7 linked regions of the Homo sapiens genome follow. The protein of the gene in region 1 purifies or fractionates together with the protein of each later gene. This does not show direct contact. Each region holds a gene or a part of one and is shown in the gene's direction. Other genes may lie near its edges.

Region 1 (3,500 bases):
AGTGATCCTCCCACCTCAGCCTCTCGAGTAGCTAGGACTATAGGCATGCACCACCATGCCTGGCTAATTTTTGTACTTTTTTTAGAGAGGGGGTCTCACTATGTTGCCCAGGCTGGTCTTGAATTCCTGAGCTCAAGCGATCTGCCTGCCTTGGCCTCCCAAAGTGCTGGGATTACAAGCATGACCCATAGCACCTGGCCAGTATTTTCTTTTATATCCGTATTCTGTAAGGTTTTTTTCGTTTTTTTTTTTTTTTTTTTAATTATACTTTAAGTTTTAGGGTACATGTGCCATGCTGGTGCACTGCACCCACTAACTCCTCATCTAGCATTAGGTATATCTCCCGATGCTATCCCTCCCCCCTCCCCCCACCCCACAACAGTCCCCAGAGTGTGATATTCCCCTTCCTGTGTCCATGTGATCTCATTGTTCAATTCCCACCTATGAGTGAGAATATGCGGTGTTTGGTTTTTTGTTCTTGCAATAGTTTACTGAGAATGATGATTTCCAATTTCATCCATGTCCCTACAAAGGACATGAACTCATCATTTTTTATGGCTGCATAGTATTCCATGCTGTATATGTGCCACATTTTCTTAATCCAGTCTATCATTGTTGGACATTTGGGTTGGTTCCAAGTCTTTGCTATTGTGAATAATGCCGCAATAAACATACATGTGCATGTGTCTTTATAGCAGCATGATTTATAGTCCTTTGGGTATATACCCAGTAATGGGATGGTTGGGTCAAATGGTATTTCCAGTTCTAGATCCCTGAGGAATCGCCACACTGACTTCCACAATGGTTGAACTAGTTTACAGTCCCACCAACAGTGTAAAAGTGTTCCTATTTCTCCACATCCTCTCCAGCACCTGTTGTTTCCTGACTTTTTAATGATTGCCATTCTAACTGGTGTGAGATGGTATCTCATTGTGGTTTTGATTTGCATTTCTCTGATGGCCAGTGATGATGAGCATTTTTTCATGTGTTTTTTGGCTGCATAAATGTCTTCTTTTGAGAAGTGTCTGTTCATGTCCTTCGCCCACTTTTTGATGGGGTTGTTTGTTTTTTTCTTGTAAATTTGTCTGAGTTCATTGTAGATTCTGGATATTAGCCCTTTGTCAGATGAGTAGGTTGCGAAAATTTTCTCCCATTTTGTAGGTTGCCTGTTCACTCTGATGGTAGTTTCTTTTGCTGTGCAGAAGCTCTTTAGTTTAATTAGATCCATTTGTCAATTTTGTCTTTTGTTGCCATTGCTTTTGGATACAAAATCAATGTACAAAAATCACAAGCATTCTTATACACCAACAACAGACAGAGAGCCAAATCATGAGTGAACTCCCATTCACAATTGCTTCAAAGAGAATAAAATACCTAGGAATCCAACTTACAAGGGATGTGAAGGACCTCTTCAAGGAGAACTACAAACCACTGCTCAAGGAAATAAAAGAGGATACAAACAAATGGAAGAACATTCCATGCTCATGGGTAGGAAGAATCAATATCGTGAAAATGGCCATACTGCCCAAGGTAATTTACAGATTCAATGCCATCCCCATAAAGCTACCAATGACTTTCTTCACAGAATTGGAAAAAACTACTTTAAAGTTCATATGGAACCAAAAAAGAGCCCGCATCGCCAAAGCAATCCTAAGCCAAAAGAACAAAGCTGGAGGCATCACACTACCTGACTTCAAACTATACTACAAGGCTACAGTAACCAAAACAGCATGGTACTGGTACCAAAACAGAGATATAGATCAATGGAACAGAACAGAGCCCTCAGAAATAACGCTGCCTGTCTACAACTATCTGATCTTTGACAAACCTGAGAAAAACAAGCAATGGGGAAAGGAATCCCTATTTAATAAATGGTGCTGGGAAAACTGCCTAGCCATATGTAGAAAGCTGAAACTGGATCCCTTCCTTACACCTTATACAAAAATCAATTCAAGATGGATTAAAGACTTAAACGTTAGACCTAAAACCATAAAAACCCTAGAAGAAAACGTAGGTTTTTTTCGTTTTTAAAGTTTGTTTTAGTTTTTTAAACTTTTTTGTCAAAAACTAGGACACAGGGCCGGGCACGGTGGCTCACGCCTGTAATCCCAGCACTTTGGGAGGCCGAGGCGGGCGGATCACAAGGTCAGGAGATCGAGACCATCCTGGCTAACACAGTGAAACCCCATCTCTACTAAAAATACAAAAAATTAGCCAGGCGTGGTGGCAGGCGCCTGTAGTCCCGGTTACTCAGGAGGTTGAGGCAGGAGAATGGCGTGAACCCGGGTGGCAGAGCTTGCAGTGAGCCGAGATAGCGCCAATGCACTCCAGCCTGGGTGACAGAGCAAGACTCTGTCTCAAAAAAAAAAAAAAACACAAAAACTAGGACACAAACACGCACATTAGCCTAGGTCTACTCAGGGTCAGAGTTATCAAGGCATCACAAGGTGATAGGATTTTTTAAGCTCCATTATAATCCACAGGACCACCCTCATATATGTGTTCTCTCCTTGACCCTGTGGATGTGACTGTATATGTAAATTTAAAAGGTGAAATTTTGATAGTAATGCCATTTCAGAGAACTTTTGGGTTCTTAAGATACTAGTAAGTTCAGAATTTGTTTTCCTAAATTATTGTTGTAAATTGCATGTAAGTTTCCAGAGTTGCTAATGAAAATGCTCTTGATCCACAATGTGGCAGAACTGTGTGGTCAGCAATACAGTCGACACTGTATCCTGTCTTTATAAGGTTGTTCACACGAACAGTGTTTCTGATAATGTGTTATGGATAGTATTAAGAGAAATAAAACTATTTATAAAAATAAACATTGGCTGGGCGCCATGGCTCATGCCTGTAATCCCAGCACTTTGGGAGGCCGAGGCAGGCGGATCACCTGAGGTCAGGAGTTCGAGACCAGCCTGACCAACATGGAGAAACCCTGTCTCTATTAAAAATACAAAATTAGCCGGGCGTGATGGCACATGCCTGTAATCCCAGCTACTTGGGAGGCTGAAGCAGGAGAATTGCTTGAACCTGGGAGGCGGAGGTTGTGGTGAGCCAAGATCATGCCATTGCACTCCAGCCTGGGCAACAAGAGCGAAACTCCGTCTCAAAATATAAATAAATAAATTACCATTGCCCTTGAAAGAGTCACAATCTAGTGGAAGAGACAATAATTATTTTCCCTTCAAAAATATATTTGAATAAAGATAATGTGCTAATAATTGCAACTGAATAACATGAGGAATGATTACTACGTGATTGCCCAGGGTTACACAGGCAGAAGTGACCTCCCAATTTTTCAGCGTCCATGCCATAAAATGACAGTAGTACTGCCTCATGGAGCGGTTGTAAAGAACAAAGACGTTGATACATGAAAGCCACTAAGAATAATGCTTCAGCCTTTTTCCAGTGCAGCCCAAGGAGTGGGAGTGGGGACCGTCCGTTCCTTTCTTGCTCAGCGTTGCAGCAATGGGAGTGAAATTCCAGGGGCTCCAACT
Region 2 (4,156 bases), on another chromosome or scaffold:
GGACCCAAAGTCCCCCCACCGGGCCCAGGCGGAAGCACCAGGCATTTCTGGTCCCAGCCGAGGTCTGAGGTCTGTGGAGCGCAGCCAGCACCTCCACTGCCAAGATCCCCGGCAGGGGGGGTGGGGGGCGCCGGCGGGGACACAGCTCTCCCTTGTTCCTGCCGCCAGCTCCTCAGCCTCAGCCTGCTGCTTCCTTTTTTAGGCAAAGTCGAGTGCTGGCCGTCCGCACGGCCCCGCGGTGTCTCACCTGCCTGAAAGGGAGGAAGGAAGCCTGTGGAGCCCCATCCGTTCTCCCGCGGCGCATCCTCCAGGAGAGGGTGGGGAAGGAGGAGACATCCTGGCAGACACCCCCCCACGTCCCCCACCTCCCAGCTCTGAGCTGAGGAGGCCCTGGAAGAGGGCCATGGCTACTCCGAGGGAGGGCCGGGGTAGGGTTCTCCTGTCCAGGGGACACTGCTGGCCCAGCCCCACCCAAGCAGGGGAAATCTGCCCTGGGAGCCACTGTCCCTCAGGACGCCCCCTGCAACCAGCCACCTCTCGTCTGGGCCTCACCAAGACCCCAAGACTCAAGAGCTCCTGTCTCACCAGTGGGACCCTCCAGTCCTGCTGGGGGTGTGTCCTGGGTCCTGGAGTCTGGGCCCCTCACTGGGTAGGGTATATGGGTAACAGGCCCAGTGTGGTCCCACTGGACAGGGCCTCAACCAACCATCTCCCACTCCCATGCCTCTTCCTCCAAGAAGCCCAGGTGGCGTGGGTGCTTCGAGTCTCTCTCGAATTCCTGTCTTCTGTCCCCTTTCAAGCCACTGTGTCCTTGTAAGTTCCACCCCATGGTCCTTCCCATCCCTGCTGGTCAGTCCCTGGGATACATGTCCTGTTACTCCAGACACCTATCCGCCTCCAGCGCGGAGGCCAAGGCGAAACCACGGTCTGGACGTGTTTTTTTGGTGCCACCGCCAGCCCCTGGGGTTCTCTTGGGCCTGGCTGCTGGGACCCCAGCACCCAGAGTCACGGCAGTGGTGGGCATGGGGAGGGCCTAGCCTGGTACCTCCCTGCTCGGCTCCCGCGGCTGGGGGTCGGAGAGGGGTGGAGAGCGTGGGCCGCACAGCCTCGGCCGGGAGAGGGAGACTGGAGTGTGTGTGTGTGCGTGCCTGCGCGTGCGTGCCTCGGTCGTATCTCGGCTGGTGCTGCGTGTCCCTGCGTGTCGGGGTCCGCTCGTGCGCGCCTCTCCGGGGTCTGTGCGCGTGGCCCTCCGCTCGCGCCGGAGGGCGTGGGCGTGGCCTCGGCGTGGGTGTGGCCGCTCGGGGAGGGGCCTCCCGGGGGCGGGGCCGGCCTGGTCCGCGCGGTGACGCGCCCTGCAGCCCCGAGCGAGCGAGCGAGCGAGCGAGTTGCCGAGCGCGCCCCGTCCCTCGCGCGCGATGCTCCCCTGGACGGCGCTCGGCCTGGCCCTGAGCTTGCGGCTGGCGCTGGCGCGGAGCGGCGCGGAGCGCGGTGAGTGCGGCGGGCGGCCGGGCCGGGGCTGGGGCTTCTGGTGACCGCTCTGCGCCGCTGCCCGCGCAAGGCCGTCGCTGTCCCCTGCTCCGGACGGGCGGGCGGGCTGGGAGGCTGCGGGAGCCGGGCGGGGGCGCGGGCGGAGCGTCCTGCTCACCTGAGGCTGGCGGCCCAGGTGCTCCAGGCGACACCGTCCGTGAGCGCCGGGGCATAGGGGCCGTCCCGGCCCGCATCTCTGCGGGATCGCGGGCCTGGACAGGAAGAGGGAGATGTCTGTCAAGGGGGCACCCCTGCCTCAGTTTCCCTACCCTTGCGAGGGCCCTTAGTGGAGGGATGGTAGGGAAGTTGGAGTCGCCCCACCGCACTGGGGAAAACCGCAAGGCCGGGACTAGAATTGAGGCACGCTGGTGCCCTGGCTTGGTGGGGAGGGGCGGTGTAGGGGGCATCAGCCTCCACCCCGGAGGTGCCCGGAGGAAGGGGGAAGCCTGCGAGGGGCTGTTCCGGCTTTCAGGCTGCTGGGGGTTATATCTTGTTGTGTGAGTCCAGGTGGGCTGGAGGATGGAGGCCAGGGGAGGGGCCACCATCTAGTAAGCGGGGTCTGGGCTCCAGCCAGGCCATCCGGCGTGGTCATTGCTGTGCCTCCGACACCTTCCCCTGCTGCTGTGTGCATGCCCAGGGTGCCTCACCTGCAGGCTGAGCTGCGTGGCTGAACTCCAGCCTCAGGCTGCTCCTCTGAAAGCCATGCCTGGAGGGAACAGCCCCACGGCTCAGGCCTGTCCTGGGGGCCTAGGCCAGGACTCTTGGCTCCACCTGCTTGCAGGGTCTGTGAGGAATGGGAAGGTGTGGGGGCTTGGAGCGGAGAGTCGCCCTCTCACAGATGGGATAACACAAGCCCAGAGAGAGCCCTAGATCCCATGGCCAGTGTGCAGTGAAACCCCCAAAAGTACAGGCCTCTTGCTTAGAGTTCCTCTTTCCCCCAACCTAGGACCTTTGGGAGAAGGCAAGCATCCACTTAAGGAAAGCTGGGGCCCTGGGGGACCCTGCCTTGCTGTGGGGCTGTCTGGGGGGCCCACACCTGAGGCTGAGCATTCCTCCTTTCCCCCAGGTCCACCAGCATCAGCCCCCCGAGGGGACCTGATGTTCCTGCTGGACAGCTCAGCCAGCGTCTCTCACTACGAGTTCTCCCGGGTTCGGGAGTTTGTGGGGCAGCTGGTGGCTCCACTGCCCCTGGGCACCGGGGCCCTGCGTGCCAGTCTGGTGCACGTGGGCAGTCGGCCATACACCGAGTTCCCCTTCGGCCAGCACAGCTCGGGTGAGGCTGCCCAGGATGCGGTGCGTGCTTCTGCCCAGCGCATGGGTGACACCCACACTGGCCTGGCGCTGGTCTATGCCAAGGAACAGCTGTTTGCTGAAGCATCAGGTGCCCGGCCAGGGGTGCCCAAAGTGCTGGTGTGGGTGACAGATGGCGGCTCCAGCGACCCTGTGGGCCCCCCCATGCAGGAGCTCAAGGACCTGGGCGTCACCGTGTTCATTGTCAGCACCGGCCGAGGCAACTTCCTGGAGCTGTCAGCCGCTGCCTCAGCCCCTGCCGAGAAGCACCTGCACTTTGTGGACGTGGATGACCTGCACATCATTGTCCAAGAGCTGAGGGGCTCCATTCTCGGTATGCGGGAGGAGGCAGGGCCCAGGGAGCCCTAGCTGGGAGCCGCAGAAGGAGAGGCTGGGTTGAGACTTTGGGAAGATCTCATGTCCCCAGAGCAGCGGCCAGGGCCTCCGGGGCTGTGGTACCCCTAGGGTGCAGGGCTGAGTGATGCAGCTTGTCTATGCACACTCTTCACTGGGCGACCCGTGTACCCTGCTGAGACGGGGGCAGGCTTGAGTAGCCACCTCCAGGTGTAGCTCCCTGCTGATGTGTCCAGCCCAGACCTCGAGGCCCCAGGGAGTGCAGAGCCCGGGTGTAGGCCCAGGAAGAAGCTTCCAAGTCTGGGGACTCTGCAGATGGGCAGCATGTGCTCCTGAGCATGCCCACCATACCTGGAGAGGGGTGAGCCAGAAAGGTCAGGGACTGCCCCCCCAGAGAGCACAGGGCACCTCTCCTGGGTGGGGACAGCCGCCGAGGGCTTTGAACTAGTTCGGACTGCAGGCCCACTGTGAGGGTTTCCTGAGAGGCCGGACCAGGGAAGGCCTGAGGCAGGAGCTGAGCAGCTCCCATTGGCTTTTTTTCTGGACCTCCCTGCCCCAGCCAAGCCCTGAAGGAGCTGGGGCTGGAGATGAGGAACCGGCCACTGGCTCAGCCTGCTGCAGCCACTGAAAAATGCCAACCCTGGGGATCTCACCAAGTCTCCGTCTGTGGGTTAATCATCCACCCAGAGCCGGAAGGGGTTGGACTGTGGGTTGGAGAGGGGTGGACGGCCCTCCCCAAGGTTTCCCCAGGGACGTCTGGCCCCTAGTGGCCCCAGGTCACCCAGTGCAGCTGCGCCTGGAGGGGACCAGGAGGAAAGGCTGCCTTAAGCAGCCAAAGGAAAAGCCTGAGGCTGCAGTGCCGAGGGGCCAGGCAGCAGGGTGGGGGCTCCTGGGAAAGAGGCCGGGTCTGAGGGTGGGGGATGGGAAGAAAGTGGCCCAGGCACCCAGCACTGCAGGAGGAAGATCCTGATAGCTTTAACCCAGC
Region 3 (2,199 bases), on another chromosome or scaffold:
TTAAATTGCTGTGAGAACCCATATATGAAAAGAGAGGAGTTGAATTGTGTGTGCCTTTTATGTCTTGAGATTTATATGTGGAAAAGACGACATCTACTTCAAACTGTATTTTTTTCGTTTTTTTTTTTTTTTGGGGAAGGGGGGAGAACGGGGTCTTGCTCTGTCGCCCAGGCTGGAGTGCAGTGGCGCGATCTCAGCTGACTGCAACCTCCACCTCCCGGGTTCAAGGGATTCTGCCTCAGCCTCCCGAGTAGCTGAGACCACAGGTGCGTGCCACCACACCCGGCTAATTTTTTTGTATTTTTAGTAGAGACGGGGTTTAGTAGAGACGGATCACTCCTGACCACGTGATCCGCCCACCTCGGCCTCCCAAAGTGCTGGGATTACAGGCGTGAGCCACCACCCCCGGCCTGTATTTTCAGAGAGGAGAGCTTGGTGTTTTTGTGGTGCCAAGTGGTAAGATAATGTCTCTTTGAGGCTTCCTATGGACTGCCTTTATTTTAGTAAACTCAAGACACCAGTTAACCTCAACAGAGTTTTGGCCTTATTAGAATTTGTTGTGCATCTTATTGAAAGCCAGGTTTACATCACCTCACCCCATTATTCTTTTTAGTTAAATAAATTTACCATGCCAAGTAACCAGAATGGAGCAAATTGGTTGATCTTTAAGGCAGTAGGTTTGACTAGCTAGCTATCATTATTGTCACATCTAATGCTAGGCACCAGAAACCATTTGAGCCAGGAGTGTGAATGAATAATTCCAGAGACACTTTAGACATTTTTTAATGTTTTATATGAACATTTTACATTTGTGTGATTGCCTTAGATATTAAATTTTCCTAGTGCTGATAAAAACAGCAACATTCATAACTTATTTTATATATTGTTCCAAAGAAAAGAATTTGTTTTAATGGTTTCAAAATAACTGCACCTGAATTTGTTTATGTGCCTTAAGTTCTCTAGTGCTATTTCAACTTTTTTTTCAATCTAAATGAAGCTTACCTTAGATAAGGTTCATATTTGTTTCCTATAGAGTAAATAAACTTCCCCTTCTTAAATTGTGTAATAAGCACCAACGTGTGGTTGCTTGGCAGAATGAGAATGTTAAGGGAGATTGTTGGATGTTTGGAGTTTCATTATATTTTTTGTTTTTATTTTTTGATACCTAGGTGCTTTTTAAAATATTCAGACAAATATCTATCTTACATTGATTAAACCCGTGTAAATTCATTTGCAGTATCTACATCGAATGTCAAAAAAGTATACTTATTTTTGTTCCATACTTATGTACAATTTTTTCCCTCTTCAGGCTTTTTCATTTACCTTTTTGAAAAAGCACTTACTCTCCCCTTCCCTATCACCCCTCCCCCAAGGTTTCTTTATTTAAATTTTTATTGAGAGTTGTTGGAGCTCTAAGACAATACAAATTTAGAGTTGAACAAAAGTATAATCTGCTTTACAACTAGTATAGACCTAAGGTCATTTGCTTTCAATTAGAGGCTCCAGAGTCTTCATAGTGGAAAGAATGCTTTGTATTTAATTGTTCTTAGTTAAGTTGTAGCACGTGAATACTTACTTACATGTTTTGTTTAAATATACTTCTTGCATAGTTTAATTTTTTAAAAGTTGTATCTAATAAAATGTCTTTTAACCATTATTACTTGACTATATGGTTGTATTAAATTTTGTTTACGAAAAATTTGTTGTTCTGTTTTATTTTAAGTATATTTAAGGGGTTGTGCAAAAAAGAGATGGGGAAAATACTGGATATATTAATATATGTGTGTATTTACTGGTATGTCCATAAAATAACTGGAAGGATAAATAAGAAACTGAAAATATTAGTGTGTAAGAGGAAAGGAAATGGTGGCTGAAGGACAAGTAAAAATGAAACTTTACTGCATACGTATATGTGTGTAATTATAAATACATATAAAATCAATTTTTTAGTCTGAAACACACGAAAGTATTCCCTATTCAAAAAAAAAAATTTTTTTTTTCTTTTTTTGAGACGGAGTCTCACTCTGTCACCCAGGCTGGAGAGCAGTGGTGCAGTCTTGGCTTACTGCAACCTCTGCCTCCTGGGTTCAAGCGATTCTCGTGCTTCAGCCTCCTGAGTACCTGGGACTACAGGTGCATGCCACCACGCCCGGCTAATTTTTCTTTTTATATTTTTAGTAGAGACAGGGTTTCACCGTG
Region 4 (3,500 bases), on another chromosome or scaffold:
ATTTTAGCTTTATAATGTAAAGTTCTCTATTTAAATTTTTTTCAGGTCCATAGTACTGGTATGAGTTAGGAAAAAATGAAGTTAATCTCTAATAAACTGTTGAATGTAATAAGAAAATCCAAAGTCATTCCTAGTAGCAATCTCTACTGAAAGGATCTGAGGATAGACCTAGGATATTTTCATCAGAATCTCTTGTAATATTAAGATAATTCTTTTGTAGAGTTTTCCGTCTGATGAAGGTTGGCCATTTGCAAAGTATCTTGGAGCTTGTGGAAGAATGGTGGCTGTAAATTATGTTGGAGAAGAACTGTGGAGTTACTTTAATGCGCCATGGGAAAAACGAGTTGACCTCGCTTGGCAATTAATGGAAATAGCAGAACAGCTTACAAACAATGACTTTGAATTTGCACTCTACCTCCTGGACGTCAGCTTTGACAATTTTGCAGTTGGTCCTAGAGATGGGAAGGTAATCATTGTGGATGCTGAAAATGTTTTGGTTGCTGACAAAAGATTAATTAGACAAAGTAAGTATATAATTTTAGATTTTTTTCTACTCATTTTTTCCTATGTCAAAATAATGTTTATACTTGTATGAAATGAGCCTTGAATTTCCTCCTTAGATGGCAACTTTAAGCGTCTTTCTTTGCTTTATATGACCACTGTCAATAAACAAATACAGATACTCTTTGACTTACTGGGGGTTACATCTTGATAAACCCGGTGTCAGTTGAAAATATTGTTATTTGAAATATATCTAACCTACGGGACATCATAGCTTAGTCTTGCCTACCTTAGACATACTCAGAACACTTACATTAGTCTAAAGTTGGGGGAAATTGTGTAAAACAAAGCCTATTTATAATAAACTGTTGAATATAATTATATTCATGTAATATATTGAATTCTGTACTGAAAGTGAAAAACAGAATGGTTGTATGGGTTCTTGAAATATGGTTTGTACTTTATTTTTAACCATTTTGATGATCCCTGGCACTGCAGCTCTGAGTTTGGTTTGACATTCTGATTATTACATCTCACCCAAAACTTTGCTCTCCATTTACTTTTGAGTTCTTCATGGGATAGATGAGTAGTGTCTGAAGTGTTTTGAAAATTAAATGCCGGCCGGGTGCGGTGGCTTACGCCTGTAATCCCAGCACTTTGGGAGGCCGAGGCGGGCGGATCACGAGGTCAGGAGATCGAGACCATCCTGGCTAACACGGTGAAACCCCGTCTCTACTAAAAATACAAAAAATTAGCCGGGCGAGGTGGCGGGCGCCTGTAGTCCTAGCTACTCGGGAGGCTGAGGCAGGAGAATGGCGTGAACCCCAGGGGGCGGAGCCTGCAGTGAGCCGAGATTGCGCCACTGCACTCCAGCCTGGGCAACAGCGAGACTCCGTCTCAAAAAAAAAAAAAAAAAAAGAAAATTAAAGAAAATTAAATGCCATAGAAGTTGTAAAGCATCAAGAACAAAGCCTGTAGGTCTAGAACCAATTCAGTTAGCAAAACCAAAGGGTTGTTGCTCCATGGTGAGGGTTTTATATTTTTTAATCCCCTCTTTCCCCCTGATAAAAGTAATATGAGTATCTTTTGACAAACAAAGGCTGAAAATTTACGGCACCTGGGGAAAAGTTTATGTGACAGCCATATATTAGGTTGACATTTACTTTTTGCATGATCTTGGCATGATCCTATTAAATACTTGATTTTTCCCACTCCCTTTTTCAGATTTTATACTTACCAGACCACTTTTCTGATTATTTCTTGACTTGCCATGTAGATCCTCCTACAGGAAGTGAACACCCTGCTGGAGTATTCTACTCTCTATTTACCTCTTCCTACATCTGTGAATATTGTAGCAGCGTATACTATTCTTTCTTTTTTAAAGTGTACACAAGCAGGTGGTTTTTAGTATATTCATAGAGTTGTGCAATTTTCCTAAGCTTAAAAAAATTATTTCAGTGTTTATAACAATAATTTTTTATAATTCATTTTATGCAGACATTCCTGGAATAATTATTACTAATTCCTGACCTTAGATGAATCCAGCCATATAGCTTCTGTATTCTTCCATTTCATACAGTGAGCATTGCTCTAGTGCTGCTTTAACTGTGGTCATTTCTTTTCAAATGTCTCATGGGTCCTCTAAATAGTCACTTTGCAAAAGTCTCTGTCTGTTCATTTACTCTCTTTTCTTTCCACTTTCTAGTAAATGACCTTTATTTTATTTCTTCACAGGGAAATTGAGATTTTGCTGTGGCAACTCCCCCAGTGTCCTTTATCATCTAAACCTCATTAAAACAGCAACAGATAGATTCTTCTTTGAGAACTTGTTACATCAGTTATCTTCTTCAGTGTCCCACCTCCTTCCTTTAATATCCAACTTCTCTTGCCTTCCTATAAAAAGTATATATAAGACTCTCTTCTGCTTCTCCTTGCTTGTCCACTGTTTTTAAAAGTATTTATTGCCTTTCTGCTTCCTCAGCCTCTATTCATTCCTTAGTCCATTAAAACCTGACGTAGACCTCTGCCTTGCCATTAGCAACCACCTAATTGGCAAATTTGTGAAGTGATTGTGACTAGTATCAACTTCTCGAAGTTGTTTCCTCCTTTGGAATAGTAACCTTCCTTCTTTTGGAATAGTAACCTTCAAAAAACATTAACTTACTACTCCTTTGCTTAAATGGTTCTAATGACTTCCCATTGTTCTGGAAGTAAAATCCAAACACCTTAAAGCCAGGGCATAATCTGTAATCTGTGTGACTTGGCCCTCTTCTGATCCTTTTTTTTTTTTCTTTTTTGAGACAGGGTCTCTGTCACCCAGGCTGGAGTGCAGTGGTGTGATCACGGCTCACTGCAGCCTTGACCTCCCTGGCTCAAGTGATCTTCCTGCCTCAGCATCCCAAGTAGCTGGGACTACAGGCACATACCACCATGCCTGGCTAATTTTTAAATTTTTTGTAGAGGGTGGGATCTCGCTGTGTTGCCTAGACTGGTCTCAAACTTGTGGGCTTAAGCAGTCCTCCCACCTTGGCCTCTCAAAGTGCTGGGATTACAGATGTGAGCCACCCCGCCCAGCCTGTGTATATATGTGTTTTTCGAGTGCTTCATTTTTAATACCCCTCCATCTATTGCCCTTGGTGCTTCTGCTACAATGGCCTCTTGTTTTCCTGAATGAATCGGCCCACTTCTGGGCATTCCCAGTTTCCTCTTCCAAAAATGTCTCTTCCTTCTTCCCTATACAGCTAGCTATTTGTTTTTCAAGCCTTGACTCCTTCAAGTACATGTGTGCTTATGTGTTCTCAATTTGCCTAATATCCCTCTTACCTCAAAATCATAAGTTTCAAGTCTAGTTCTAGTTGTACATATGACATGCCCACCTAATACCTTATAGCTCCTTTATATTTATTTTGTTTATATATAAAATATTGACACTATTATGGCAATTGTACATACCTTGTCATCCAATTAGAACCTTAAACTTTACCCATATACTTAATTAT
Region 5 (3,500 bases), on another chromosome or scaffold:
GTGGATCATGAGGTCAGGAGTTCACGACCAGCCTGGCCAACATGGTGAAACCCCATCTCTACTAAAAATACAAAAAATTAACTGGGTGTGGTGGCACACGCCTGTAGTCCCAGCTACTGGGAGGCTGAGGCAGGAGAATCGCTTGAACCCCAGGAGGCGGAGGTTGCAGTGAGCCGAGACCATGCCATTGCACTCCAACCTGGGTGAAAAAGTGAGACTCTGTCTCAAAAAAGAAAAAAAGACATCATAGTGCACTGTGTTCTTACCTGTGAATAGCCACTGCCCTTAAGCCTGGGCAACATAGCGAGACCTCCATCTCTTAAAAAAAAGAAAAAAAAAGGAAGAAGAAGAAGAAAATAAAACATGGTACACCTGTTTGTGGCAGTTACCATGCATGGAACTTGCAGGACTGGAAGTTGTCCGCGTGAGTCAGTGAGTGAGTAGGGAGTGATAAGTGAATGTGAAAGCCTAGGACGTTCCTCCGTAGTACTATAGACCTTATAAACCTTGTACACTTAGTCTTCAATAATAAATTAACCTTAGTTTACTGAAACTTTTTTACTTTGTAAGCTTTGGGGTTTTTTTTTTTTTTTTTGACTCTTTTGTGATAACATTAGCTTTGAAACACATTGTACAAATAACAAAAATTTTTTACGTTCTTATTCTATAAGCTTTTCTCTATTTTTAATTTTTTCTTTATAAACATTTTAATTAAAAACTAAGACAAAAACACACGTATTAACTTAGGCCTCCACAGGGTCAGGTTCATCAATATCCCTGTCTTCCACCACCTCCCCTCATCCCATTGGAAGGCCGTCAGGGGCAGTAACACTCATGGAGTTGTCATCTTCTGTGATAATGATGCCTTCTTCTGGATACCTCCTGAAGAACCTGCCTCAGGCTGTTTCACGGTTAACTTTTTTTTTTATAAGTAGAAGTACACTCTAAAATTTTAAACAATAAAAAGTATAGTAAATACATAAAGCAGTAACATAACCATTTATTATCATTATCAAGTATTATGTAGTGTACATAATTGAACATGCTTAGACTTTTATATGACTGGCAGTATAGGTTTGTTTACACCAGCATCACCACAAACACCTGAGTAATGGGTTGTCTTGTGATATTATGGTGGCTACAGCATTGCTAGGCAATGGGAATTTTCAGCTCCATTATAATCCTTTTTTTTTTTTTTTTTTTAATTTGAGATGGTCTCGCTCTCTCACCCAGGCTGGAGTGCAGTGGTGTGATCTCGGCTTGCTGCAACCTCCACCTCCCTGGTTCAAGCGATCCTCCCACCTCAGCCTCCCAAGTAGCTGGGATTATAGGCGCCCACCACCATGCCTGGTTCATTTTTGTATTTTTAGTGGAGCTGTATTATCAACTCATGTTTTTGAGGAATCCTGTATTTCCAATTTTTATTCAAAGCTATTTATTATAATTTAATTTATAATTAAAATTAATTATATTTGCTGCTGCCCCCTTCTTCCACCCTATAATCTGTTAAAACCTATCTAAAATAAATAATTTATCTTGTCATTGGAAGTATGCACTTAGCTTGCAGTTCTTACCTACATGGGAGAATGAGGCCTAGATTCCTAAGTGTGCTTTCTTATTAAACTAAAGTTATAACTATCAATAAAGACCTTTTAAAAATGTATTATTTTAAAAATTATAACACATTATAAACCTTAAGATTTTCATCTTAAAGAAGAGGTGACTTAATTATATATTGTTTATATTTAGCTAATGGCTCAATTTCTTGTAAGGAAGAAAGTTTTTTTGTTGTTTCGTTGTTTTGTTTGTTTGTTGAGACAGAGTCTTGCTCTCTTACCCAGGCTGGAGTGCAGTGGCACAATCATGGTTCACTGTAGCCTCTGTCTCCCGGGCTCAAGCAGTCCTCCCACCTCAGCCTCCCGAGTAGCTGGGACTACAGGTGCCCACCACTGTGCCCGGCTAATTTTTGTATTTTTAGTGGAGCCAGGGTTTTGCCCTGTTTCCCAGACTAGAAAGCTTTCTTAAATTGATTGTATTTGTTGGCTGGGCACTGTGGCTCACACCTGTAATCCCAGCACTTTGGGAGGCCGAGGTGGGAGGATCACTTGAGCCCAGGAATGCAAGACCAGCTTGGGCCACGTGGTGAAACCCTGACTCTAAAAAAATTAGTTGGTCCTGGTGGTATGTGCCTGTAATCCTGTGGGAGGATCGCTTGAGCCTGGGAGGTGGAGCTTGTGGTGAGCCATGATCATACCACTGCACTCCAGCCGGGGTGACAGAGTGAGACTCTGTCCAAAAAAAAAAAGATTGTATTTACAAAGATGCTGACCTCTACCTGTGTAATTACTAGGGAATAGTACCTGTTTTCCGTCCTGTAACCAGAAAAGACTATTGTTGTACTGATTGATGTTATTAAAATAGCCCCATTGTATCACAGTCCTTTGTACATCTTTAAGCTTGAATCCGTGTATCTAGTGTATTGCAGAATTTTCATAAATTTTTTTTTATTTCATAAAACTCATCGAGAATATACATTTTCTTCATGTTGCAAACTGGAAAAATGAGTGAAGTATAGTGAAAGGTAAATTCTAATTTTGCATAAAATTGTCATGGAATTTACTTGTATAAAATTCTCCCCTAATGTGATTGTGACATAAATTCATGTGTGGGAAAGAAGGGGCAGACAGGAAACTGAATGCTTAATTCCTTAAGGAAATAATTTAAAATGTTCAAGGCTTCTTGTTTGACTTTCATTGATAGTCACTATTTCAAGTTCACTTGTGCTTTGAATCAGCAAGTTCCATAAGGCTGCAGGCTTTCCATGACACATGTTTTCTTTTCTCCAAGGAGTCAGAGTATTCATCGAAAAGAAAGCACAGCTAACACTTTTAGGAACAGAAATGGACTATGTTGAAGACAAATTATCCAGTGAGTTTGTGTTCAATAACCCAAACATCAAAGGGACTTGTGGCTGTGGAGAAAGCTTTAATATTTGAAATCTCAGGACTCTTCTGGCCGTAGGTTCCAGGAAAGCTCGTGGAAGCTTTGGGGCTCACTGCAGAAATCATGTGACTGTCACGTGCTGGAAAATAAAGTGATACATCTTGAAAATGAATCCAGTGTGTTGGATTCCAGAAGAAATGATATTTATATTCTCTATAGGGGACAGAAAATGAGAAGCCATCACTCTTTTTGGATCATTTAGGTCTCTTGTATCCTTTGTTTTAGAACCAGTTTCATTAAAGTTGCCTTCCTGGGCACCTGTTTATCCATTTCCTGAACTGTGTGCACTCCTTAGATCGCTATTGATGGCTTGATCATCCCTCAGCATTTCTCCCAACCAGATCGGTGACTCCTAAAATCTGAGACAGGACATCGTGACTGCTGGTAGTAATATGGTGGTGCATTGTTTTTTCCACCCAAACTTAACATAGCCTTTTTATACATTTTTATGAAAAATTTCATTGTCAGCTGCCTCACTGCATACTCTTTAATAGTAC
Region 6 (3,500 bases), on another chromosome or scaffold:
ATTTACAGTGTGTTGTGGAACTATTTATACAACATGTCTTGTATAATATGTATGTAGTACACATGTGAATGAATGAGAAGGGACAGGGAACATTTGAGAAGTGGAATGCTTTTTAAACTCCGTGCTATACAGTGAATGGTAATATTCATTGTGATACATTGAAAGCAGAATTATTGTTAGGGGGTGCATTCTTCTTATGAAAGCCATGAGAAATATTTCTGGAGTCTTCCCTGGGAATGGCCAGGGCCAGAGGACATCTTTGAATGCCATTGTACATGTTCTGGTTATCTGTTTTTTCCTTTAGGTTAGTGGTTAACAAATGGGGTTTGACAGAACAGGTGTTTCAAGTGGGGTTGCATTTGGGGCAAATGAGGCTTAGCTAGTGGGGCTCTAGGCTCAGAGCTTCTCTTCAGCCAGAGCACCTCTGCTTTTATTTTTGTTATGTATCGCAGCCCTCGATATGGTTGTCTTTTAAAAGTATCAAAAAGCTACTGTTTTAATATTTCATATTCTCCCTTTAGGTATAATCCATCATTTAAAATTTCTGAAATTTTGTAAAGCCTATACAAATTAGTGAATTTGTTTAGGTGGTTAAAGGCCCCCAAAATTTTGTTGCTTTTTTCTGCTGTGTTTTCTCACTGGAAATTGCCTTTAGATATTCTTTACCTTAAAGTCAAAAGATTAAAGGTAGAAAGTGATTAGTTTGTTTGCTCAGGAAGAAAAGGGAAGGGATATGGTGAGTGTACACCATGGAGAATGTGGAGCTGGCCCCTCACCCATGACCCATCTGATCTCCCACTGTGGCTGATTGGGAGCAGATGGGAAGGCACCACAGCACTTAGTCTCTTGGTCAGAAGTTACTCTTATACTTGTGAAACTTATGGTCTAACAGCAAAAGGCTGAATTTTTACCTCCACTAAGGAACTTCACAAAACCGTTCAGCCTCTGGTACAGTAAAGAACGTTGCCTACATTTTTTTTATTGGTATGACCGGACACAATATTGTTACCCAGGGATCCTCTTGTGTGAAAATGAAGAAAATCAATTTCATTTCCCCAAAGACAGACTAAAGTGTCTCAGGTCTAGCGGTTGCTCTTTTATCAGAGGAGTTTTGAATGGATTAAAATAAGAGGGACAAGAAATTGAGTGAAGATTCCATATCTCAGAGCTGCCTAGGGATACTTCCAGAGTGACAGAGGGACCCCCACATAGAGGAGGAGATTGAGTCTGCATTGACTCAGGTTATTACTGTTGTATCTGATTAAAACACAGGCAGCATAACAAAGCGTCTGATATGGACTGAAGGACTGTGTGTTTGCATTTAATTTGAAACAACAGGAACATGACTCCCAGAACAAATCATTATGAATATAATAATACCAGCCATGACAGCCTGTGTGCTTTACCCACCTGAAAGCTCCTGTTGTATGTATGGAAACGTGCCTTTGATCATGATCTCTGGCTTTTAGAAAATATACTTTACCTTTATATATTAGTGAGCATTATTATACTCTCCTTATTTTGTCTTTCCTGTCTGGCCTTGACTTTGTTGGTAGAGCTGTTACGTGTTTAGAGACTGGCTGTATTCATGAAGGCAGTTTTTGTCTTGGTATAGCCAGCTCCCAATTCTGGTTGAAAAAAAATGAGCAACAGTGATGTTAGTGATAATGATAACAAGAAAAGGAAAGAATCTTGATATCCATGTTAATAAGAATTTTTTAAAAATTATAGCCACTTTATTATATTACTACTTTCCTTAGTAAACTGTCTTTTTTACTAGGTTATAATTTTGATAGTATTTAAAAATGAACCTAAGAATATGTCTCTGTAGATTAACTGAGGATGTCTTGGTGTTTCTTATCTTCACAATTATTCATTGTCTACCTAAACAATGTTCTAACTGCACTTCTTCCAAGAACTTCACTGGGCAAATAAATTGTTTATTTCCTTAGCACGTAAGTGTTCAGTTTGCATTATGTTAGTTAATTTGCACGTTTGTATGTCAGCTTTGTTCTTTAGTGTCCTTTGCGTGTTTATCTTGCCTCTGATACTAAAATTATAAGCTCTTGGAGGCAGGCAGTATGGATTCTAATCTTTTATTATTCTTGCACAGTGCTCAGACTGTGACCTTGTATGCAGTAGGTACTCTATAAATGTTAGCACAGGTTTCATGGTGTCAAGGCAATGACTATGTAATGAAGAGAGATTGATGGGAACATTAATATGTACATATATTCCTTGAGACTTTTTATCAATGTATTCATTAATACATGTATGAGTGCTGGAAAATTCTCTGTAATGGTAAATGGTTCTGAACTGTTTGCAAAGGTTACTTTGTTTTTTCTTCAGGAAACTGAATTTGGAGGTTATTCCTGAAGAATGTGTCATGTATTGATGAAAGATTACATCTAATACATTTACAAAAATGATACCTTATGTATGAGAAATCTGAGATTACCCCGTCCTCTCTCTGAGTTTAGGCTAAACTGCATATAAATCAGAACTGTGTAGTAGAAAAACAATGGGCTGTGGAGTTAGGTAGAGCTCTTCTCAAATTCTTGTTTAAAACAGTGGGCTGTGGAGTTAGGTCGAACTCTTCTCAAATTCTTGTTTAAAACAATGGGCTGTGGAGTTAGGTAGAGCTCTTCTCAAATCTTTGTTTCACCTCATATTTGTGTTGTAATACGATTGTGCCTCTCTGAGCCCTAGTATCTGCATCCATAAAGAATAGGAATACCAACACCTCTTCATGGGGTTTGATGTGAGAGTTAGATGATACAGCACATTTACATGTACAGAGCACAGTTCTGGCAGAAAGGAGGGACTCAATAAATGGCAGTCATTTTTATTATTTTTCCTAATTTCAGAAACTCCTGAATGGTGGTTGACCTTCAGAGAGAGTCATCCCTGCCATCCTCGTTGGTCACGGTAGCTCTCACTGTGAGGTGGCTCTCACTCTAACCTCTAAAGACCCTAGTCTTTTTGGTACTTTTTTGTATCGCCAACCCATACATACAGTCCAAAACATGCCTTAAACAGTTTTATCTTAACAACCGGCCTATCTTTGTATATGTCTAGGAGTTTTCATATATTTTGGTTGGTAAAATATATATAACATAAGATTTGCCACTCATCTATCTTGTCAAATGTAATTCAGTCAGCATTCACCTCACCAAGATAGTCGATGTTATCTAATGGCAGATAATATCAGGCTTCAAAGCCAGTGTGAACATTCCAACCATGATAATGAACTCAGAGCAATGGTTCGCTTTGCCTTTCTGGACTCATTTTAGGAATGTTCGTGAGTTAAGTGGGGATTGCTCTATGTAGCCAAAAGCTTAGACCAGTTATCCTCTTCAGCCTTTAACTGGAGATGGAGAAAAGTGACTCATCAATTTATGTTTAGTTTTTCATATGCCTTGAGAACCATGTTATGTCTTATCAGCCTTTTCTTTCTCAGGAAAGGCAATTTCCGCTTTACCCATAATCTGTAACCTTCA
Region 7 (2,850 bases), on another chromosome or scaffold:
AGGTACAGAAAGTTGAACATTTTTTGGTTCATCCATATTAACTGTCAAATTTAAAATATTCTGAGCCACTTGGGAAGGTATAGTTCATGAATTTTGGTCTTTAAGGAAACTAAGAAAGTAGATAGACTCTTAGATCATGTGCAAGCCATAGATTAATTGTGACTAATACCATCCCCAGACTCTTAAGTTTCGGCATGACATTCTGGTATTTGTGCAACTGCTCTTCCCTAATTCTGATATTCTCAAGAGTTAAGGTTGATGTCTTTATTCAAAAAAGAGATGGTTAAATAGCAGTCAACAGTGTGTAAATATGAGCGGAGTTGTCTGTATTAAAATGTGGCAAATTGGCTGGATGTAGTGGCTCATGCCTGTAATCCCAGCACTTTGGGAGGCTGAGGCGGGGGTGTATCACCAGGTCAGGAGTTCGAGACCAGTCTGGCCAAGATGGTGAAACCCCATCTCTACTAAAAATACAAAAATTAGTGAGGCGTGGTGGCCAGCGCTTTTAATCCCAGCTACTTGGGAGGCTGAGGCAGAGAATTGCTTGAACCCGGGAGGCAGAGGTTGCAATGAACTGAGATCACGCTACTGCACTCCAGCCTGGGCGACAGAGTGAGACTCCATCTAAAAAAAAGAAAAAAAAGGTGGCAAATCGAATATCTTGGTGTAATATATTCGTTTTCCTTTTTTGAAACTTACTATATTTTGGCCCAAATTGAGGCTTGTGGGATTAGGTCCTGAACTTTTACGTGGGGTTTGAATCTTTAGGCAGTTAGAGTGATAAGAAATGCAGTTTTTTAAAAGTTGACTTGTACTGGTTGAGGTCTCTATTAGAGCCAGCCATATATAGGAATTGCAGAATAACATGGTGGTTATGAAAGTAGATTCTGCAGTCAGTGTTTTGGATTTGAAGCCCAACCTCAGTACTTGCTGGCAGTGTGACCTTGAACAAACTATTATACCTATTTGACTGTTTCTTCTTCTGTAAATGGGGATAGTAGTCTCTACTTCAGAGGATTATGAGGACCAAGTGAAATAATGCATATAAAATGCTTACAACAGTGCCAGTAATCTGGTACATACTTAATAAATGTTAGTGAAATTGGCCTTTTGTGAAAGCTTATTGAGTATGAAATTGCTCTTTCTACTTCGTCACTAATCAAACCTTATCTTTTGCCACTCCACTTTGGCCTCCTGATAGGTTACAAGTTGAAATGCATATGGGGGGAAAAGAGTCATATTATTTATTCAAACACCTACTTGTCAAGTGCAGGAACTGTGCTGAGTAGTCAGAGTATAAGGACATGTAGAAACTTTTCCTGCCTTAAAGAACTTATTAGTGGATAATTAATCAAATTTATAGTCTTAATTTTTTTTATTATAAGTATTCAACAAGTGTTTTTAGTGTGTAAGATGTGACCAGTGAGGGAAAATTGGTGTAGAAAATGCCAAACGTGGTAAAAAGGCATTCGAAGGGGAAAAAAAGAAAATGCCAGACATGCTAAGGGAGGGCAGAAACATCCAGATAAATTTATTTATCTAATATGGAAAGTAGTATGTACTGTCTTTAATAAAGGTATTGTTCTTTTTAAAATTCAGGTTCAATTTTATTTACAACTGAATTCCTGCGCAGTGGAGAAGTAAAAGAAGCCGCTTGTCTCTGTGAGCACAGCTATATACAGTGTAGAATAAATGTGGTAGAAAAGTTTTTTTGGTTTTATCTCTTTTGCGATCCCTAAATTGCCACCTTTCTATTGTTTGAATAGTAAAATTAATATGAAGAACTAGATAGTGGTGTAAACAAATGTGATAATGTTTATTTACTTTCGGTTCTGCTCATACTTTTTTGTACAACATTAAAGAAAATGGACTTTTTTTATTTTAATTTCTCATTAAACTTCTAAAATTCTTATAGGTGAGGATCATTTTTCCCCCCACCTTAGGATGGTGAATGTTGCAACACAATGACAGGTTTAAGTCAGTCAAGTTTATTGGACCCTTGCTTTGATACCATTCTTGGGCACATACTCCAAGATTGTATTAGATTTTTGTGATGAAGAGCTTCCATTACTTCTGAAAACTATATTTATCTGAGTGAGTCCAAGGTGCAACTCCTAAATGAATTGTGTTGCAGAGAACTCCCAGTATAATTCACTGACCAGTACATTTTATAACCATCCAGGCCTTGGTTTGCAAGCAACAGACCTTAAACATACAGGAAACTATTAAAATTGGCTCGATCAGTAGTCATAGGAATTGGTATAAGAAGAGACTCATTTAGAGCTCAGAGTTTTCTTCACATAATGGGGGTATTAATTATTTGTGCTGTTGCGAAATTATGTGTCTTATTCTTAAAGCCATGGTAAAAATAGGGATCTGTGAAGGAAATTTCTAAAATTGGATGTATTAGGTTTTGAACTCTGAGATTGCACAAATATTCAATTAACTTGAAGTTGTGTACATAGAGAAGAAAATTTGGTTTTAGCAAATGACAGAGCCTTCAAAAATATTTTTGGAATAATGTGAATCAACCGAAAACTGGGGGCAAGGCAGAGGACAGGTTTTCTCAGGTTAAGAGAAAAACGAAATTTTAAAAACTTTAAAAAATACTGATAAATTCGGATCAAATTTGGGGGAATAAAAAATATTAGAGCAAAGGAGTTTGCTGGTTGTGTCATTATTTAATGATCAAAGTATAGCATGTATGCCTTATTACAGACTTGTTGACTATAGGCTTAATGTAAAAAGGAATCTTGCCAGATGTAGCTACTTAAGGAAAAAAGGGTTTTTAATAGAAATGAACTTTTGATTAGTATGGTGCCAGTCACAGGGCTATTTTCCTGAATATTG

The links.
Region 2: the proteins of PDIA6 (region 1) and VWA1 purify together in Homo sapiens (affinity purification with mass spectrometry; 3 studies listed by BioGRID and IntAct, with this or other methods). This does not show direct contact.
Region 3: the proteins of PDIA6 (region 1) and KLHL24 purify together in Homo sapiens (affinity purification with mass spectrometry; 3 studies listed by BioGRID and IntAct, with this or other methods). This does not show direct contact.
Region 4: the proteins of PDIA6 (region 1) and DIPK2A purify together in Homo sapiens (co-immunoprecipitation; one study listed by IntAct). This does not show direct contact.
Region 5: the proteins of PDIA6 (region 1) and ISCA1 purify together in Homo sapiens (affinity purification with mass spectrometry; 2 studies listed by BioGRID and IntAct, with this or other methods). This does not show direct contact.
Region 6: the proteins of PDIA6 (region 1) and BTBD9 purify together in Homo sapiens (affinity purification with mass spectrometry; 3 studies listed by BioGRID and IntAct, with this or other methods). This does not show direct contact.
Region 7: the proteins of PDIA6 (region 1) and NUDT21 purify together in Homo sapiens (affinity purification with mass spectrometry, with the first as the bait; one large-scale study listed by BioGRID). This does not show direct contact.

The regions. Positions count from the first base shown.
Region 1 is NC_000002.12:10,802,786-10,806,285, reverse strand, and holds part of PDIA6 (protein disulfide-isomerase A6 isoform d precursor), read left to right. Parts: intron 1-3,500. UniProt on the Homo sapiens protein: May function as a chaperone that inhibits aggregation of misfolded proteins. Negatively regulates the unfolded protein response (UPR) through binding to UPR sensors such as ERN1, which in turn inactivates ERN1 signaling.
Region 2 is NC_000001.11:1,434,334-1,438,489, forward strand, and holds the start of VWA1 (von Willebrand factor A domain-containing protein 1 isoform 1 precursor), read left to right. Parts: upstream 1-1,356; 5' UTR 1,357-1,415; coding exon 1,416-1,488; intron 1,489-2,593; coding exon 2,594-3,151; intron 3,152-4,156. Other genes in the region: uncharacterized protein LOC107985729, read left to right, coding at 1-69, 203-817. UniProt on the Homo sapiens protein: Promotes matrix assembly. Involved in the organization of skeletal muscles and in the formation of neuromuscular junctions.
Region 3 is NC_000003.12:183,682,821-183,685,019, forward strand, and holds the end of KLHL24 (kelch-like protein 24), read left to right. Parts: 3' UTR 1-1,699; downstream 1,700-2,199. UniProt on the Homo sapiens protein: Necessary to maintain the balance between intermediate filament stability and degradation, a process that is essential for skin integrity.
Region 4 is NC_000003.12:143,985,323-143,988,822, forward strand, and holds part of DIPK2A (divergent protein kinase domain 2A isoform a precursor), read left to right. Parts: intron 1-220; coding exon 221-524; intron 525-3,500. UniProt on the Homo sapiens protein: May play a role in cardiomyocyte proliferation through paracrine signaling and activation of the PPI3K-AKT-CDK7 signaling cascade.
Region 5 is NC_000009.12:86,265,539-86,269,038, reverse strand, and holds part of ISCA1 (iron-sulfur cluster assembly 1 homolog, mitochondrial precursor), read left to right. Parts: intron 1-2,847; coding exon 2,848-2,996; 3' UTR 2,997-3,500. UniProt on the Homo sapiens protein: Involved in the maturation of mitochondrial 4Fe-4S proteins functioning late in the iron-sulfur cluster assembly pathway. Probably involved in the binding of an intermediate of Fe/S cluster assembly.
Region 6 is NC_000006.12:38,573,930-38,577,429, reverse strand, and holds part of BTBD9 (BTB/POZ domain-containing protein 9), read left to right. Parts: intron 1-3,500.
Region 7 is NC_000016.10:56,431,483-56,434,332, reverse strand, and holds part of NUDT21 (cleavage and polyadenylation specificity factor subunit 5), read left to right. Parts: coding exon 1-2; intron 3-1,599; coding exon 1,600-1,621; 3' UTR 1,622-2,850. UniProt on the Homo sapiens protein: Component of the cleavage factor Im (CFIm) complex that functions as an activator of the pre-mRNA 3'-end cleavage and polyadenylation processing required for the maturation of pre-mRNA into functional mRNAs.